Regions from separate parts of the Homo sapiens genome. Here region 1 is linked to region 2. The links come from fine-mapping of genetic effects on gene expression. Tissue or cell type: cerebellum. Region 2 holds a variant in brackets; the other region holds the start of a gene. All regions are shown on one strand. Distances are between the middles of the regions.

Region 1 (10,081 bases), 54 kb after region 2:
GCCACCATGTCCAGCCTCCCAAAGTGCTAGGATTACAGGTGGGAGACACTGTGCCCGGCCTCATTAACAATTTTTATACAAAATTCATACTGATAGTATCTTAGATATATTGGATTAAATTAGATGAACCAAAAATAATTATTAAAATTTATTTCACCATTTCTATCTTTTTAATGTGGTTAGTAAAAAAGTTTATATTACATATGGGCTCATAAATTTCTATTGGACAGCAATTTTTAGCAATTTTCACTCTCTCCAATTAAAAAAGATAGTGAAGCATCGGCAAAACCAAACATGCATTTAAGCCCTCTACTTAAAGTCTGCCTAAAACAATCTAAAAGAATCAACATATTCTGGGCCATTTATCTCTGGCACGTACCTAAAAAGCCATCATCCAATTTCAAGAATGGGAAAGTAGCTTTGAGAATAAGCTAATACAAGGTGAGTCATGTTAAAGTAATGGTTCGTCTATCTTCTGTGCATCAGAATTAACTTGTGGAGCTTTTATTAAAAATATAGATGGTCATCCCACCCAGAGATTCTAATTCAGTAGGCTGCAGGTAGAACCCGAGCATGTGTGCTTTAAAAGCTCCCCAGGTGAATCTAATAGATAGCCAGTGCTGTATAGGTCATATTTCTACATATACTACTAAATATATTTATGAAGGTGCTATTAAAATTCCCACAGGCTTTGTAATGCTACTGTGTGGCTGCTTTAGCAACATCAGCAGACAACATTGAGAATCAACACTAATGAAACTGTGGCAACAGCAAGAAGCTACTGGCACTTAGCTAAAGCCATTTCCTATGCTCCTTCCAGACAGGTTTTGCAACGTGCACAATGGAGGCAACTCCTATTTCCTTCTTCCTTCAGTTCTCATGGAAAGCATTTATACCTAGGAAGGAAACAGAGCTTAGCGGTTGCAAGCTGGGCTCTGAAATCAATCTGCGTAAGTTCGAAACCTAGCTCTCTAGTTAGTAGTTACAGAAACACAGGCAAAGCACTTCACATGCCTAACAATCTGTTTCCTTTTTCACGTAACAGGTCAAAATGTGCGTACTCATTAAGTTAGTAGCACCAGTCCTGTAATGAATGGCAAGTACTTAGCACAGCATACAGAAAAGCCATGCTTTTTACTGCAGTCAACTTCTTGCCTTTTCCAGTGATTTAGCTATATTTTTGGATCAGCCATATGTAAGCCTTTCTCTTTTAATATTCCTTTCTCTTTTTTTGAGACAGGGTCTCACTCTGTTGCCCAGGCTAGAGTGGCATGATCATAGCTCACTGCAGCCTCAAACTCCTGGGCTCAAACAATCCTCCTACCTTGGCCTCCCCAAGAGATTACAGGCTGGGTACACCCAGCCAAGCCTTTCTTCCAACAATGAAAACGTGCACATTGGGCACCGTGGCTCACACCTGTAATCCCAGCATTTTGGGAGGCCAAGGAGTGAGCCCAGGAGTTTTGAGACCAGCCTGGGCAACACAAAGAGACCCTCTACTTACGTTTTTTAATAAAAATAATTAAAACAACAATGAAAATATCCGAATGCTGGCTTAAAAAGTTAACCCTCTACTTCTCCATTTATATAGGTTTCCAATCAAGAAAAGGTATCCTAATCTCTCACCTGTCAGACTCTTCAGTCCTTCTGTGAAAAGTGACTGGAATTCGGGAGACTGCAACTTCATTGTGAATAGATACTGCTTCGGAAGGCACAGCCTACTCCACCTACGGTTCAGCACTGGCCTGTGCCAATGATACAGGCACCTCAGCATCTGGAGAGGCAGTCACCAACTACACATCTACAAGGCAAATACACAGGCATACCAATGAAATTAAAAGTGAAGGTAAGTGAAGGAAAACAAAGGGGGACACATTTCAAGTTTATCAACTCAGAAATTCATCTCTTGTTCAGATGAAAAAACTGAAAACGGTGTCAGTTTGAGGGATTACGACTAGGTCTATGTATCTACCTGGTTTTGTTCTCCAGAAGCACTTACTGTGGCAGGCGGGGTCTCACTAGCGCAGGCCTCCATAACTGTTTCAGTACTGACTGACTGGTTGAGTTACATATTAAAAGCTGAAAGAGCCAGCCAGTGCCCTTAAACAAGGCTAGAATGTAACAAAAGCCCCCCAAGAGTTTTGCCTAGGCCTTTCCTGGACCTTGAAGCATGATAAAATAACAAAGGAATTCTTTTTTTTTTTTTTTTTTTTTTTGAGATGGAGTCTCGCTCTGTCGCTCAGGCGGGAGTGCAGTGGCGCGATCTCAGCTCACTGCAACCCCTGCCTCCTGGGTTCAAGAGATTCTCCTGCCTCAGCATCCCAAGTAGCAGGGATTACAGGCGCACACCACCACATCCGGCTAATTTTTTATACTTCTGGGTAGAGACGGGGTTTTACCACGTTGGCCAGACTGCTCTCGAACTCCTGACCTCAAGTGATCTGCCCGCCTCAGCCTCCCAAAGTGCTGGGATTACAGGCGTGAGCCACTGAGCCCGGCCACAAAGGAATTCTTAACAGGACCCGTTTAGAATTAAACAAGTTTTACTGGGGATCTGAGGAAACTCCCCAGGCCTCCACGAACAAGTTTATTAGGGGTCTGAGGGAACTCCCCAAACCTCCATGATTTAGCAGGAGAGAATATAAGGGTAATCACCCCAGCACCTGGACCCATTTAGATTAAGTAAATTTACTCAGGCTCCAGAGGAAGGTCTTCAGGACTCAGATCTTATGGGTAAGAAGTTAATCACTTGTATCTTTAGATCAATGCACACTTACACATAAACATACAACTTACAAGGTATATAAGCTCTGGAAAGCTCTGTAATTCTGAGTCGGTCTGGGATATTTTCCACGCCTTCGCCCCGTACCTGGTTACAGAAATAAACTCCTTTCTTTCCTAGTTTATCTGCATCTCATTATTGGGCAGCGAGAATAAGCAGCCCAACCCTCGGTTTGGTGGTTTGGTCGGGGAGCATTACCACGACACTCGCATGCCACATGGTACTGTGATGACACTCTCCCCAGAGCAGGGCTTCAGGCAGTATGAGAGGGATGCGGGGTTCTAGAAACTCTAACCGAGTTTCTGGTCTCCAAAACTTGTCATGGTCACAGGTGGGTATCACCCTACTTCCCCACCTGCACTCGAGGATTCACGACCCTGGGATAGCTCCTAGACATTGTATTTTCCCATGAATTTAGTTTTGCTGCCCCCATTTTCCTGATTCTTTTCCTGCCATCTTGCAATCTCCTCTGATTTCTGGCACACCGCGGCCTTCCCTTCTACATATCACATCCTCGTTCTCCCCATACGGGGGTCCTGCCCATAAGGAGGCCGCAGCAGCTCTCGAGTGACCCCGGTGTAAACCTGCAGAGAAAAACCATTCCATTCCACGGAAGCGGGTGGAGGAGCCGCGCTTCCCGGCAGGCCACGTGGGGCGGAAAGACCCACTCAGTTTCCTCGCACCTCCGCCTCGACTTAGGAAAACGCTCTGGGGAACCCCAGCCCTGAAAAGGCGCGTCTCACCCCCCACGCCGGGTGCTGGCGACAAGGCCCAGTGAAAAAGCGTCTCGGGGCCGTCCGCGCGGAGGGGAAAGTGCTGAGGGAAGCCAAGGAATCCGCGCCTGCGGTCGCCGGAAACGTGGCGGGGACACGACCTCCGCGTCGGGGCTATTTTGCCCACTGCTGAGGAGGCCTCTCGCCACGTCCCGCTCCCGTCTTCCTCGAGGACCGGGCGCGGTGGCGCCTCTGGCCCACAGCAGGAAGGAAGGGGCAGCAACTCACGCCACCAACTCTGCCCCTCTGAGCGGCGCGCGCCCGCTTACCGGCCCCGCTGTTGCCGCAGCCGCCACCGCCGCCACGCGCACTTCCGGGCTGGTGAACGCGGTGACGTCACCAACGCACATGGGTTGGCGGCGAATGGGAAGTCGCGGCGGGGCGAGGGCGAGTGCGGGGGCGGGGCCCGGACCGAAGGGCTTCCGCCTCCCGTCGCTCCTCCCCACCGTGAGGCGAACCTCAGCCGGTTTCCCAGCCCCGCCGAGGCCCGCTGGGGCGAAGCGGAGCCCCGGGGGGCCCTGAGGAAACCGGCGCGGGTTCGTTTAATTACGCCCTTCTCGCCAGACCTCTGGCTGGCCCTGAGCTGCTCAGAAGCCCATCTGCGCGGCATGCCCGTGCGATCTGAGACAACTGGCAGCTGTCTTCCTTTGCAAAACGAGACTGTTAATAAAACCTACCCCAGGGTAGGACGGACTGTTCGGTAAATGTTAACTTATCCGTGTTTGACTATTCTCTCCTCTAATCTCTGCATAGGGTTAAGTCCACAGTTGACAGAGTCACGCGCATTCGAAATCTAAGCCCGCCGGTCCTATGAACTTACTGGGCATATTTTATTTTCTTACCTGGTTTGTGTAACCATTGGCCTCCTTGGCCCGGAGGCTTCCCATCTGTAACGTGGAGAACTTAGATTTGATCCAGTTCATTAATTCTTTCTAGAGCGGAAAAGAGCAAAGAGAGTGGCAAAGGAGTGGGAATACAGCCGTTGAGCCCTTAAAGTGCGAAAATGTGTAGTTTTTGTTTTGTTTTGTTTTTGAGACGGAGTTTCGCTCTTGTCGCCCAGGCTGGAGTGCGGTGGCGCGATCTGGGCTCGCTGCAACCTCCGCCTTCCGGTTTCAAGCGATGCTCCTGCCTCGGCCTCCCGAGTAGCTGGGATTACAGGTGTCTGCCACCACGCCCGGCTAATTTTTAGTAGAGACGGGGTTTTGCCGTGTTGGCCAACTGGTCTCGAACTCCTGACCTCGTGTTCCCCAGGCCTCGGCCCCCAAAAGTGCCGGGATTACTTTTGCCGGGATTCGGCCACTGCGCCCGGCCGAAAATGTGTAGTCTTTTAAGTGTAACTTTACATCACTTAGCTTTCCCTAAAATTTTCCTAGAAAAATGCTTGTGCATGTTATTTCTGTTCTTTTGCCCTCCCCACATGCCTACCTGTTCTTCCCAAACTTTTCAGCCCCACTCTCTGTAGACTTCCTAAAACGTAAAAAGTAAGATGTGCAATTACCACACCTCTTCAAGGTGTTGAATATCCTGTTTTTGGAAGCACAGGACTGGCTTTCCAAATGGACATTCAGAGGCACAGCATTGATATCATCCGGTGCAAGGATTTTCTGTCTCTCTCTCTCTTTGGGGCAAGGAAAGCCCCAAATCATCCTTTCAGGCTTGTCTGCTATTTCTCACCACCATGACCCTAGACAAACTGGACCAAAGCCTCCATTGCTGTACCCACCTAGAATAGATTCTCCAAATCACCACCTATGAAGGCAACGCTAATACAACTATTATGATGACTTACTTCGTGCCAGTTACTGTGCTGGGCACCCTCAACAATTTCTGGCCTTGTAAATATATAGTTTATATATGCAGGTGTATATACAGTTGTCCTTCCGTATCCATGGGGTATTGGTTCCAGAACATCACCCCAGCCAGTGTTCAAGTTCTTTACATAAAATGGCATAATATTTACATATAGACTATACACATTCTGTAGTACAAATCATTTCTAGATTACTTATAATACCTGATATAAATGCTGTGTAAACAGTTGTTATGCTATATCGCTTCTTTGTGTTTTTTAATTGCTATTTAATTTTTTTTTTTTTTTTTGAGATGGAGTTTCACTCTGGCGCCCAGGCTGGAGTGCAGTGGCACGATCTCAGCTCACTGCAACCTCTGCTTTCCAGGTTCAAGCGATTCTCCTGCCTCATCCTCCCAAGTAGCTGGGATTACAGGCACCCGCCTCCACGCCCGGCTAATTTTTGTATTTTTAGTAGAGACGGGGTTTCACCATGTTGGCCAGGCTGGTCTTGAACTGCTGACCTCAGGTGACCCACCCACCTAGGCCTCCCGAAGTGCTGGGATTACAGACGTGCGCCATGGTGCCCCAGCCTTATTTAATATTTTGACCTGTGGCTGGTTGAATCCACTGATGGAGAACCCATGGCCATGGAAGGTCAACTGGAGAGAGAGAGAGAGAGAGAGAGAGGAGAAAGAGAGAGAGTAAGAGAATTCCTCCTGTACTGGCCAAGACAATAAAACAAAAATAGGGGTATTACTACAGATCATGTAGATATATATGAGGAGGTATTATAAACAATTTTATGCCAATTAATTTGACAATGTAGATGCAACGCACCAATTCTATAAAAAAGACAATTTATCAGAACTGAAATAGGGTAGAATTTAAAAATCTGAATAGCTTTTCATTTTTAAAGAAATTGAATTGTTGTTCAACAGACTTCTCACAAAGATAATTCCAGGCCCAGATGGTTTCAGTGGTCAAATTTATCAAACGCATAAGGAAGGAAGAACTCCAGTCTTGTGCAAAGTTTGTTTAGAAAATAGAGGAGGAAACAGTTTTCCTCTCATTTTGAGGCCAGCATAACCCGCATAACATAAAATCAACACTACAAAAAAATTAATATACAGCTTAATATACCACATGACCATAGAAACAAAAACAACTTTAATAAAATGTTAGGAAATTGAATCCAACAGTATATAGAAAGATAATACATCATGATCAATTTGGGTTTGTCCCCAGTGCAAGGAATGCAAGTTGTATTTAATGATCTAAAACCAATCAACGTAATTCACCATATTAACTGAAAAAGAAAAACTGTTGTCATCACAATAGATGCAGAAAGACCACTTAAAATTCAATCCCTACTCATAAAAACTGCCAAAAAAATTAGAAGGGACTTCCTCAATATAGTAAAGGTCATTCATGAAAAATCCATAGCCAATATCAGACTTAGTGGTAATATATTGAACACTCTCCCCCTTATATCAGGAAGAAGGCAAGGATGCCTCATCTTACCACTTCTTAACATTTGTCTGTAGTTTATAACCATTAACAAAGCAAGAAAAAGATATGGAAAGTGTAACAATTCAAAAGGAAGTAAAATTGTCCCTATTTTCAGATGACATGATGGTGGTTTATACAGAAATCATAGGAACTGACAAAACTACTACTAGAACTAACAAGTAAATTTAGGAAGGTCTCAGGATACCAGGTTAATATACATAAATCAATTCTATTTTTATATATTATCAGCAAAAATATAGTACATAAAAATATATATCACATATGAAGAAATAAGCGTAATAAGAGAAGCTATATGGTTAGCAACCAAACATATATAAAGATACTCATCAATCGCTAAGAGGCCAGATATGGTGGCCCTTGCCTGTAATCCCAGCACTTTGGGAGGTTAAGGTGGGAGGATCATTTGAGCCCAGGAGTTTGAGCCCAGCCTGGGCAATATAATGAGACCCTTTCTCTATAATTTATTTTTTAATAGCCGGGGTTGCTGTTGCGTGCCTGTATTCCCAGTTACTCAGGAGGCTGAAGTGGGAGAAACACTTTGAGCCCAGGAGGTCCAGGCTGCATTGAGCTGTGATTGCACCACTGCATTCCAGCCTGGACAACAGAGTGAGACATTGTCTAAAATATTATATATATATATATATAAAATCACTAGGGAAATACAAATTATACAACAATGAGATACCTTTTTGTTTTTTTAAGACGGAGTCTCACTCTTTCCCCTAGGCTGGAGTGCAATGGCATAGTCTCGGCCTACTGCAACCTATGCCTGCCAGGTTCAAGCAGTCTGCTGCCTGAGCCTTCTGAGTAGCTGGGATTACAGGCACGTGCCACCACACCTGGCTAATTTTTGTATTTTTAGTAGAGATGGGGTTTCACTATATTGGCCAGGCTGGTCTTGAACTTCTGACCTTGTGATCTGCCGCCTCAGCCTCCCAAAGTGCTGGGATTACAGGCACGAGCCACCACGCCTGGCCAACAATGAGATACCTTTACATACCCATTAGAATGTCTAAAATTGAAACACCTGGAAATATCAAATGCTGATGAGAATGAAGAGCAACTGCAACTCTCATACACCGTGGGTGGGAATACAAACTGGCCCAGCCACTTTGGTAAACAGTTTACTGGTGTCTGATAAGACTAGCTATACATATAGCTTATGGCCCAGCAGTCCCACTCCTAGATATTTACCTGAGAGAAATAAAAACTTATGTTCACACTAAAACGTGTATGTGAGTGGTGTAGTCACTTTATTTATAATTATTCCAAACTGGAAATAACCCAGATTTCTTCCAGCAGATGAATGGATAAGCAACCTGGAGCATATCCATACAATGGAATACTACTGAGCAAGATGAAAGAACAAACTGCTGATACACACAGCAACACATCTGACTCTCAAGTGAAGAAAGCCCCTTTCAAGAGGCTGCATATAATAGACTCCATTCATATGACATCCAGAAAAGGCAAAACTATAGGTCGGGCACAGTGGCTCACGCCTGTAATCCCAGCACTTTGGGAGGCCGAGGTGGGCAGATCACGAGGCCAGGAGTTCAAGACCAGCCTGGCCAACATGGTGAAAACCCATCTCTATGAAAAATACAAAAATTAGCTGGGCGTGGTGGTGGGCACCTATAATCCCAGCTACTCGGGAGGCTGAGGCAGGAGAATCAATTGAACCAGGGAGGCAGGGGTTGCAATGAGCTGAGATGACACCATTGCACTCCAGCCTGGGCAACAGGGCAAGGATCCATCTCAAAAAAAAAAAAAGGCAAAACTGTAGAGAGAAAAAATGATCAGTTCTTGCCAGGGGGCTCAAGATGGGATGAGGTATTTACTACGAAAGCGCATGAGAGAATTTTGAGGGGAGAGAAAGGTGATAGATTTGTTCTATGTTTTGATTATAGTGGTGATTAAATAACTCTGTATTTGCCATAATGCATAGAACAGTATTGTATTAGTCCATTCTCACACTGCTATAAAGAAATACTTGCGACTGGGTAATTTATAAAGAAAAGAGGTTTAAGGCCAGGTGCGGTGGCTCAAGCCTGTAATCCCAGCACTTTGGGAGGCCGAGGCGGGTGGATCACGAGGTCAGGAGATCGAGACCATCTTGGCTAACACGGTGAAACCCCGTCTCTACTAAAAATACAAAAAAATAGTCGGGTGTGGTGGCGGGCGCCTGTAATCGCAGCTGCTCGGGAGGCTGAGGCAGGAGAATGGGGTGAACCCGGGAGGCGGAGTTTGCAGTGAGCCGAGATCGCCGAGATCGCGCCACTGCACTCCAGCCTGGGTGACAGAGCAACACTCCGTCTCAAAAAAAAAAAAAAAAGAGGTTTAATTGGCTCATGGTTCGTTCGGTCGGCTCATGGTTGGGGACGCCTCAGGAAACTTGCAGACATGGTGGAAGGTGAAGGGGAAGTAGGCTCCTCTTACATGGCCAGAGTGGGAAAAAGGAGTGGTGGGGAGGTACTGCACACTTTTAAATTGCCAGATCTCACTGCAACTCACTATGAGAAGAACAGCACTGATGGGGAAATCCACCCCCATGATCCAGTCACTTCCCACCAGGCCCCACCTCCAATATTGGAGATTACAATTTGATGAGAGATTTGAATGGGGACACACACCCAAACCATACCAAGTACATTTAAAAGGTAAACTTTCCTGCTTATAAATTATACCTCAATAAGCCTCCCCCCAAAAGTAATTACATTTTTATATATTAGCAAAAAAAATTAAGAACATGAAAATTCAATTATTGAAGTATGTACCTATGAAAGCAGGACAGAACTTTGAGGTCATTAAACTAAAGGGTGAAAGAACTCTGGACAGAATGCCCAGTTCAACCCCTTAGGACATGGTGAAGACAACCAAAGCGGTCTCAAACTCCTCTCTCCCACACAAGACGTTTTCTATTATCTCTTAATATAGACCCATCCTAAAGGAAATAAAACTTTATCTGCAAAGGAACTGACATTTACTGCACAGAAATCCTACTGGAAATATTCTCTCTCTGTAGAACATACCCAAAAGTAAATACCATAGACAGGGAGTGCTGTTAGCATCTGGCAAGTTTATACCTTTCTGTGGAAACACCACAGTCATGAATATTACTCTTCAGTTAGAAGGCTACACATTATTAAATAAATTCAGGAGGCCAGGAGTGGTGGCTCAATTTGGGAGGCTGAGACATGCAGA
Region 2 (9,958 bases):
CTGTGACTGAATCAGAGAGAGCTACAAAGGAGTTAAAGAGCCATAGTTATGATCCTTCATTGTCAAGGGAGGCTGAATATGACTGGGATTCCCCAGGCAGATAACGATGTCCACATAGCCCCATCACAGTGCTGCAAGCACCTCTGCCACTCTATATGTAGGACAATTTATTGTACAAACTGGCACACTTTGAAGAGTGGAATGGGGCAAGGGGTGGGGCTGGTCTGGTAGTTATGCTGATACACCAAACACATACCAGGGTTGTCCTGGGCAAATCCCAATGTGGGGTTGCTCTATCACTTGCTACACACTCATACATGTGGTTGCACACACAAATGCAGGCCAGATCAAGGCAGGTAACACACACACACACACACACACACACACACACACACACACACACACACACACTGGCTGGTTGGCTTCTGTGACCAACAGGGGCTGCCCCATCTAAACCAGGCATTGTTATTTAGTCGGAGATCATTGTTCCCATGCATGAATCTGACTCATGGTTGCCAAATCTTCCCAGTTTTAAAGAGAAGCAGGAAATCAATATTGGTATATGTATTCTTCAATTGCCAAATGCTGGCTGGCAATCGTATAATTCAAATACTCAAATTACCACACAGGGCAAGAAAGTCTCTAGCTTGGGAGGTCACCTGTTTGGGACCCGTGTCTCACAGAGTGGCAGAGGGAACTGTGGCACTGTGAGAGGAACATGCCCGTGGAGCTGCTTACATCTCACCTGTGCTTTTGCCTCAAGGGAGAAAGCATTGGAAGATTTATGCACTTCCAAAATTAATGAATTCATCTATTGAAAAAATGATAACCAAATATGCCTACAAGTTAATCTAGCTTTGCTTTTTCTAAAATCCACAATTTCCTTTAAAAACAATTTTGGATCTTTGGACTAGGTTGGCTGGTTTTATCCATCAAACCAATATGGGTCTTAATCTTCATCCCAGATGGAAGTGGGGAGGAATGATATCTTTGCCTTTCATCATGGAGGAAAATCTCTTCTAAAAGTTATCTTCCCTCTTCATTCTCAGAGGCTACCAAGCTGACTTTCTCTAGGTGTCATTAGCCAGGACCAGATCAGGTGATACCATCAGCCATAGAGGAGCTTGGAGGAATAGAGTGGGCTCGTTATTACAGGCTTACAGCAAACACGACCCCATAGCAGAGTACACTATTGCCCCAAACAAAATCAGAGTTCTTGGCAAGGAAGGAAAGAGGAATTGCTGTTGAGTAGGTAGGAAATCGGTGTCTGCCAGAACTGTGCAATTCATCTTTCATTTAATGAACATTTTTTGAGCAGCTTTTAAATGCCAGAACCTGTTCTTGGGAGCAGAAATTCCCCATTCAGACCTTATACCTTTGAGGGGGGAGAAATGAGACTGTTTTTAAAAGTAAGCCTCACAGTATTTTATTATTCTATTATTATTATTTTGGAGACAGGGTCTCATTACGTTATCCAGGCCTCATAGTATTTTAAAAGTTGAGAAATGCTTTGATGAAGGCAAATGAAGCAGAGAAGGGTAGAAAATGGTGGGAAGTGTGGGAAGAGGGTCACAATCTGACACTGGGTAGTGTGGGAAGGACTCCCCAAGGAAGGGGTATTTGACCCAAGACCTGGAAGGTACAAGGGGAAAAGTCACGCATCTATGCAGGAGGAGAGCACTCCAGCCAAAGGAAAAGGCAATTGCAAAGGCCCTGAGGTGGCCATGGGTCCATGTGGTTGTGGAAGAAGAAGATCAGTGTTGATGGAGGGGAGGGAGAGCCCACAGAGCAGCAGTGAAGTGACATCAGGGCAGGATATTGGGGGCCCACTGTGCATTATAAGGGCCACTGCAAGGGAGATGGGGAGCCAAGGAAGGGTACTGAGCAGGGGAGTCACATAATCTGACTTGTGTTTTAACAGGATCGCTCAGACTGCTTTGTTGAGAAAGCACTGTGAGAGCTAAGGGTAGAAGCCGAGAAACCAGTGTTGGTGCTATTGCCATACTCCAGGCAAGAGATAATCAACCGCTTAGACCAGAGTAGTAGCATTCTTTAACACATTAAAAAAATATGTAGAGGCTGGGCATGGTGGCTCATCCTTAATCCCTTAACCCCAGCACTTTGGGAGGTGGAGGTGGGCAGATTATTTAAGCTCAGGAGTTCAAGATCAGCCTGGGAAACATGACAAAACCCCATCTCTATAAAAAATACAAAAATTAGCTGGCCGTGGTGGCTGGTGCCTATGGTCCCAGCTCCTCTGGAGGCTGAGGTAGGAAGATCACTTGAGCCCAGGAGGTGGAAGTTGCAGTGAGCCAAGATTGCACCACTGCACTGCAGCCTGGGACAGAGCAAGACCCTGTCTCGAGAAAAAAAAATTTTATATATATATATATATATGAAGAGAGACAGAGAGAGAGAAAATACAATATAAAGGGAGACAGAAATGTCCTCTCCCAGTCTATGTGCTCCTTGCTGCTAATATTGTGTAGAAGCCAGAAATGGAAAGAGCGATGGTCCTTTTCATTTACATTTTCTCCCGTCTTCTACCACCCTTAATTCTGTACTATTAAAGTTAATTCTTGAGCTGTAAGACAGTGATCTATGAACATATATATTTCTTTTCCCTCTGGCTTGCAGAGCTCCTTATCCATTGATACTGCACGCAAGCAAGAGGAAATGTTAGGAACAACTCAGTATGATATCTTCTTTCAGGATAAAGTTACCAAATTAAACAAATGGTAAATGACCATGTTTTCCTTTTGGTTTTAATAACCAGTGCTTAATCCAAGAAACCTGCTTGCTTAGATATTTTTGTTCAATGATCATCTGTTATCCCTACTGAAAGGTGTAGCTGTGGATGACTAGGTAGACTCCGGAGGGATAAAATGAAGGAGGGAGCAGGTGGTGAATGTGAAGAGTGGAGAGGAGAGGAGGAGAATTGGGGAGTAAAAGATACACAGATGTGAGCTCCGGTGATCTGTAGCAATGCACAAAAGAACAGAGAAAGAGCCAGTGCTTCTCCAGCCACATTTGTAGACTCCACCAGCCTTGCAGCTGTGCTTTCTCGTCCGGAGAAGTCTTGATTGACCCAGGGTTCAGACAATTCTGGTATCACCTCTGGGGAGAAAGACTGGAAAGTCAGAGCTTACTTATTCAGAAGCTAGATGCTTGTGTAAAGAAAATTCTACTGCACGTAAGCACAGGTTATTGAAATTCTACAAACTGTAGTGAGACATAATGTTACAGCATCAAACACACACACATATTACTTAGTGCATGCTCCCTGCTTGCTTGCGTTCTCTCTCTCTTTCACGTGGGCACACACACACGCACACCAATACACCGGCCATTCCCTCATCGTTCTGTGCTGGCATTCTGGCATAGAATCATCCTTCAATTGACTGGAGTGATCACCTTAACTCCGTTAAATCATTACGTAGTATATGTAATTGTTATTAACCTCATCGTAAAAGGTGATGCTATGATTCATGTTGCAGACATTATTAACTGGAACAAATAGGCGACACTATTTGGTTCGTTCTTATTTTGCAAATGGGCGAATTGAGGCCCGCAGCCATAAGTGATTTGACGAAGACCACAGACTGATTCGGAGACAGGAGGCAAAATGACACAGGAATGATTCACAAGCCTCTGTCACAAGGGAGTTTTCTGCTTGTAACTTATCAGGGAGGCAAATTTTCTGAAATCATTTTTTCAAATCTCAGATCCATGACTTTTCTGTTGAGCAATGCTGCTGCTTCCTCTCAGCCTCCGCCCACCACCACCACTACCATGTTTAGATGTTGTATTTCATTTAAGGATTTTTCAGTTTTCCTTCCTCGCTGAAAAAGTGATACTGAAATACACTACGAAAACTTTTGTCCTCCCTCCAAAACAAATATCTTACCAGTCACAACTCCACCATTATAACAGAATTATCTTCATTTTTTACATAGTCTTTCTTTTTTGCCACAGTGACTTGTTTTTACATAGCTGAAGTCATAATGAGTAGGCTAGTTTATATTCAGACAATTTTATTTACCAATTATAAGGCGTTTTCCATTCTGTGCAATCATCATTTCAAGTATGTTTCTGATTAATACTTGTTAATTTTGGAATGTAATGTACATATATGGAAACTACTGAAGTTATTGAAGTTGTATGTACATACATTGAAACTACTGAAGAAAATCAGCAATAATTCAACCACCCTCGGAATAACTGATGGATTTCCCCAGCCTTCACATATATGCTTCTTATTTTAAGAATTGAAACTAATGCTGCATGAACAGGTTTCTATTTGCTCCCTGCCCCCTTCGTTTAAAAACAAGGTGGAGACTAAAGGCTCTCAGCCTCAGTTTCTCCATATGCAAAATATCAGGATTAAATAAGTCATGCTAAGGGCTGGAACAAAGTGAGGGCTCTGCAGCGTGTACGCCGGGCACTCAGCCGTGGATGGCAGGGGACGGCGTTCTGTCCCCGGGACGGAGCGCAGGCCTGTAATTGTCCCTCCCGCCTAGGCCATCACTTTCAGGCTTGGGTACGCGCCGCCGTCTGCTCCCCTGGGGCCGCCAGGGGGCGCTGTGGCCCCGGTGCGCGGCAGCCGCGCGACACGGGCCCTCCCTCGGAGTCTTCGGCACCGCCCTGTCCCAGCCTCCTTTGCGGGTAAACAGACATGGCCGGCGAAGGAGATCAGCAGGACGCTGCGCACAACATGGGCAACCACCTGCCGCTCCTGCCTGGTAACCGCCCGGAGTAGTTCCCTGTAGTCGGGAGTGGGGCGAGGCTCGGAGCCGCTAGCGGTGCAGCTGGGCCTGGGAGGCGGGCGTGGGGGCGCCAAGCCTGGCGAGCCAGCCCAGCAGGGCCGCACCGGAAAGCTGCTTCACGTCGGCCCTCGGCCAGCGATGGAGTCGCGGCGCTTTCTTCGCTGCTCTGTTGCCCCGAGCCGTGAGCCAGGGTGTCGGGGGGAGCATTTGCTATTAAGAACAGGAAACCCATCCTCTCCATCCTCCTTGTGTTCTGAGTTTAGCTCCTAGGAAATGCTCTGAAACTAGAGGACCGGGTCAGATTCACAGCGGTTACTTTTGCTGGTCTCCTTCCTTTTAATAAGAGTGACAGCTAACATGTACTAAGCACTTACCATGTTACGAGCCGTGCAGTTAACGCTTTGCATGCATGTCGCCTTTTAATCCTTCCCACATCAGTTTTCAGTTTCCGATTTGATAAGCGAGTATTGGATTTGCAGATTAGTTCAATGACTTGCCCAAGGTCACACAGCAGAGTCAGGATTCCAACCCGGGTGTGTCTGTCATTATATCTCTAAACCACTTCTCTGTTTTGTTTTTCTTACTATCGGTCTTTCTCAGGCATGTACGATTATGCTTAATCAGAGATACTTAGTTTTTCTTTTTCCTGTATGTTGTGTGAAATGTTTAGACTTTGGCCTTGTGTTGAAATACTGAACAAAAAAAAAAATGCATGGAATATTGCATAAACTTTTCATGGAATGCCTTTCAAGAGATGCTTTCCAAAAGGTGTATCATCCAAACTTGAAAGTATTACTTGAGTCCCTTCGTTATATGACAAGTATGTTAGGTGTTGTGGAGATGAAACGAGAGGTAATACACA[A/C]TCTGATAATTGAGGTTTACTGTCTAGGCGGGGCTGCTGAGAATATAACTAAACGTAAATCAACTGCAGAGGCGGTTGATTTAGGGCCAGATAAATGAATGCTGTTGTGGCTCTTCAGAGGCAGAGGTTGTTTAAGGGTCAGAGGATTTGGGAAAAAGCCTTTCAGGTAGATCAGGAGACATCTAAAAGCACATATTTAGGATATGGTTGTGGGACATAAGGCCTAGGAGGTATATTGGGTCTAAGTTGCTGGGAAACTGGCATCTCTTGCCAGTGGGTTTGGGTTTTTCCTGTGGATTGCCAAGAAACAGTTTTAGGTTTCAGGTAATTGCCTAAAGAAATCTATGCTTGGAAGATTAATTTGTCCACTGGTAGCAGCATGGATTAAAAGAGGAAGAGACTGAGTGCGTGCCCACCATATAGGAGAGAACTTTTCTGTAAAAATAAACCATAGTCACTGGTTGTTCTCGAAGCCATTCTAGCTGAGTTGACACAAGGGTAAGTGTGCCAGCCTTTGATGGAAAGCTGAGCTATTTTTTCAGAGACATTAGCCCTACTCTCTGTGCCAAATCCGGTGTTTCAGGGAGAATGGTGAATAGAAGAGGGAGGATACTGATCTTCTGTCGACATTCACATCGTGCCTCTGCATGAGATGAGTCATCAGACTTCACTGATAGCTCTGAACAGTCAGCGTGGTTTTTTGTTTGTTTTTTTTTTGTTTGTTTTGTTTTGTTTTTTGTTTTTCAGAAAAGCGTCGGGAGAGGGCCCAGAGATGGTGTAGATATAGCAATAATGCCTCTCCAAATTACGTAAATTTTATTTGTAGGGAAACACTGGGCTTTCCATAATTCCATGTAGTACGAGTTGTTCTGAAGAGTAAATCCTCTAAGTTCCAACAAAAAGCTTTATATTTGAGATGTGAAGAGTTTATCCTAGGCAAATGAAACATTAATAAACATAACTGAGTAGGGGAAAGTGGTTTTTAGCCATATTTATGAAAAAAAGGTTACTAAAGAAATTATTTAGAGACTAGGAGTCAGAACAGTTAAAATGTAAATTTTTAACAATATTAATTCCAGCCTTTGAGCTAATAGTTTATCTTTTAAACTTTCTGTAGTAGAGCAATAAAGTGGGTTGTGCTGCATGCCAAGTGATAGCCATACTGTCAGAGTTGGAAATACAAACAATTTGATGCAGAATATTTTTGTCATCCATTTAGATAGCTCTTTTTTTATCTCAGTGAAACTTACATGTTCCAAGGAAAATTTGTATGAAGTGTTAGACCATTGGCTATTTACATATAAGTTGAAGTAATTCTGTTTTTGACAAAGTTTTATATCTAGGAAGTTGTAATAATAAATAGAAAGTCCAAGGCAGTTACCATATTGAAAATCATTTTTATTTTCTGTCAGGGGCCTGGCTAGAGGTGGTTTGACTTAAATAATGATATGCAAAGGAAAACAAATGATTATTTCGTAATGACATTTTATCGATTTAGAAGTTTATTTGGGGCATTTAAAAATACATGAACTGGGAGGTGAGAAATGAGATTCAGTAATTCTTTATTGTTAGTCTAGGCCAGGGTCTCCCAACCTCAGCACTGGACTTTTGGGCTGGAGAATTCTTTGGGTGGGATTGTCTCGTGCATTGTAGGATATTTAGCTGCATCCCTGGCCTCTACCCACTAGATGCCAGTAGGACTCCCTTAGTTATTGCAACCAATATCCCCTGAGGGGCAAAATCACCTGTGGTTGAGAGTCACTGGTCTAGGATAGGAAATTTACTCATAGTTTGTATGAAAAGGACAGACTCACAGTTAGTACAATAGCATATGTATTGTGTAGCGTTTTCTAATTTTCTTTGCTGTCATTGGTAACATCTGGTTTTCTAAGACATTCTTTTAAAATGTTTTATGCTTCATGCAAACTTTATTTTTAAATTTAAAATTAAGCAAAATAGTATGCAAATGATTGCAAAATTTTCTTTGTTTCTTTCTTTTGAGATGGAGTCTTGCTCTGTCGCCCAGGCTGGAGTGCAATAGCACAATCTCAGCTCACTGCAACCTCCACCTCCTGGGTTCAAGCGATTCTCCTGCCTCAGCCTCCCCAGTAGCTGGGATTACAGGCACCTACAACCACACCCGGCTAACTTTTGTGTTTTTAGTAGAGATGGGGTTGCAACATGTTGGCCAGGCTGGTCTTGAACTCCTGACCTCAAGTGATCTGCCTGCCTCGTCCTCCCAAAGTGCTGGGATTACAGGTGTGAGCCACCACACCTGGCCTTCATTTTAAGATAATGTAGCGACTGCCAGGGAAATGTTGTCACTAGAAAAATGCTGTGAAATTCTTCCTGCTAGGTTATCTTTCTCTCAGTTTTAATTAACAGATCTTGCCTGCTTTGTTTCTTTTCTTACTTATGTAGGAACTGATTGAAGTTGAGAGTTTGAGAGAACGTTAGAGGTTGACTTGTTGAAGCCTATCATTTTGCAGATGAGGAAACTAAAATTTAATTGGGCAGAATGAGTTGTCTAAGGTGTTAAAATTAGTTACTGGTGAGGGAGAAGAGAAAAATCTCCCATATAGAAGAATTTTAAATAACTTACATTTCCTCTTCAAGGGAGTGGAGCATAACTCATCACCCCTGAAGTGGAGGCTACACCTAGTGATTTGCTTCCGAAGGGTACAATGTGAAAAGGAGGGGGGAAAGGAACTTTACAGCGGAAAAACCTGACACACACTGCTGTAGCCAGGTGATCAAGGTTAACAGCAGGAATAGTTCATAATATATAGGCTGGATATGTAATAAAAACAGCACATTGGCAACAGACCCCATTTCTAAAAAGGAAAAGAATAACAACACTTCACTTCTGTGGTCTTCCTCCCTAAAACACGTATCCTCAGTCTAATCATGGGAATTACATCAAACAAAACCCAGTTGAGGGATACTCTACAAAAGGCCTGACCAGTACTCCTCAAAACTCAGAAACAAGCAAAGTCTGAAAACCCCCCTAGCCCAGAGGAGGGTAGGGGGACCTGATAACTAAATGTAAAGTGGGATCCTGGAACGCAAAAAGACTAGATAAAAACTAAGGGAATCCATTTAAAATATGAAGCTTAGTTAGAGTAATGTACCAAGACTGATTCCTTCGTTGTGGCAAATGTACCATACTAATATAAATTAACTATAGGGGAAAAGGATGTGTGACACACGGGAGCATTCTGTACTATCTTTACACTTCTCTGTAAATGTTAAACTATTCTAAAATTCACAGTTGACTTAAAAAAAAAAAATAGCTACTGACAGAGCCCAGCACGGACCCCAGTCCTCTGGCTCCCTCTTCACGGTGCTGTAGAGTTTACCAAATGCATGTGGTTTTAGAAGTACCCCTCTTTTGAAGAAGGAATTACATGTTTGAAAGGTTTTCATTCATCTTTTTTTTTTTCTTACAATATTCTACTTTTATAGCAGAGAGTGAGGAAGAAGATGAAATGGAAGTTGAAGACCAGGATAGTAAAGAAGCCAAAAAACCAAACATCATAAATTTTGACACCAGTCTGCCGACATCACATACAGTATGTAATTTAGTGACAGATCTAATATAATAGATATACATTTAAATGTAGATAAAAGTTCATAAAAACAAGTGACTGATATTTGTATTACTAGATATCAGAAATTGTGGATGAGGACATGGGCTATTTGCCAGTAGATAAACATTTAACTGTAATTTTTAAGAAGCTTAATACTATGTTGTGGTAGAATTGTTTGAGGAATTGTTGCTCTTTATACTCTTTCTGGTAATTGAGCTATTAAATACTTCTCTGTACTTCTAGGTACTAGAGTGTTATTGAACATACTAACATTTTATACTTACTGTTTGTGATATGTGGGCATAGAGATATTTCTTGGTAAAAATAATACTTTGTACTAAAAAAATTCTTGAATTTCTGTGTTTGTGATATATTCATAAAAGATTAGAAATTCTTCTAAGAGTTAAAGTTAGATTAAAAATTATATTTTAACATGGGATGCTTATATACCACGTTTATTAAGTGTTTGTAACCCCATTTGTATTTTTTTCTTTTTTTTTGAGACAGAGTGTTGCTCTGTCGCCCAAGCTCGAGTGAGTGCAGTGGCACAATCTCAGCTCACTGCAGCCTCCACCTTCCAGGTTCAAGTGATTCCCCTGCCTCAGCCTCCCGATTAGCTGGGATTACAGGTGTCCACCACCACACCTGGCTAATTTTTGTATTTTTAGTAGCAACAGGGTTCCACCATGTTGGCCAGGTTGGTCTTGAACTCCTGACCTCAGGTGATCCGCCTACCTCGG

What was found. PIP is the estimated chance that this variant, and not a neighbour inherited with it, causes the effect.
Region 1: TRNT1 starts here. The variant in region 2 is fine-mapped to the expression of TRNT1 in cerebellum (GTEx, PIP 0.98).

What each region holds. Positions count from the first base shown.
Region 1 is chr3:3,120,734-3,130,814 of GRCh38, reverse strand. TRNT1 (tRNA nucleotidyl transferase 1) reads right to left here and starts at 3,875. Exons shown (of 8, transcript NM_182916.3): 1 at 3,825-3,875; 2 at 1,627-1,801. The coding sequence starts at 1,774. It overlaps LOC124909339 (a long non-coding RNA gene), which reads left to right and starts at 3,984. Exons shown (of 2, transcript XR_007095786.1): 1 at 3,984-4,255; 2 at 8,177-8,818. RefSeq lists enhancers at 3,312-3,391, 2,814-3,544 and a silencer at 3,752-4,171.
Region 2 is chr3:3,174,405-3,184,362 of GRCh38, reverse strand. It overlaps CRBN (cereblon), which reads left to right and starts at 4,672. Exons shown (of 11, transcript NM_016302.4): 1 at 4,672-4,742; 2 at 9,094-9,200. The coding sequence starts at 4,676. RefSeq lists a silencer at 4,439-4,608. The variant A/C (reference allele first, on the strand shown) is at 5,629.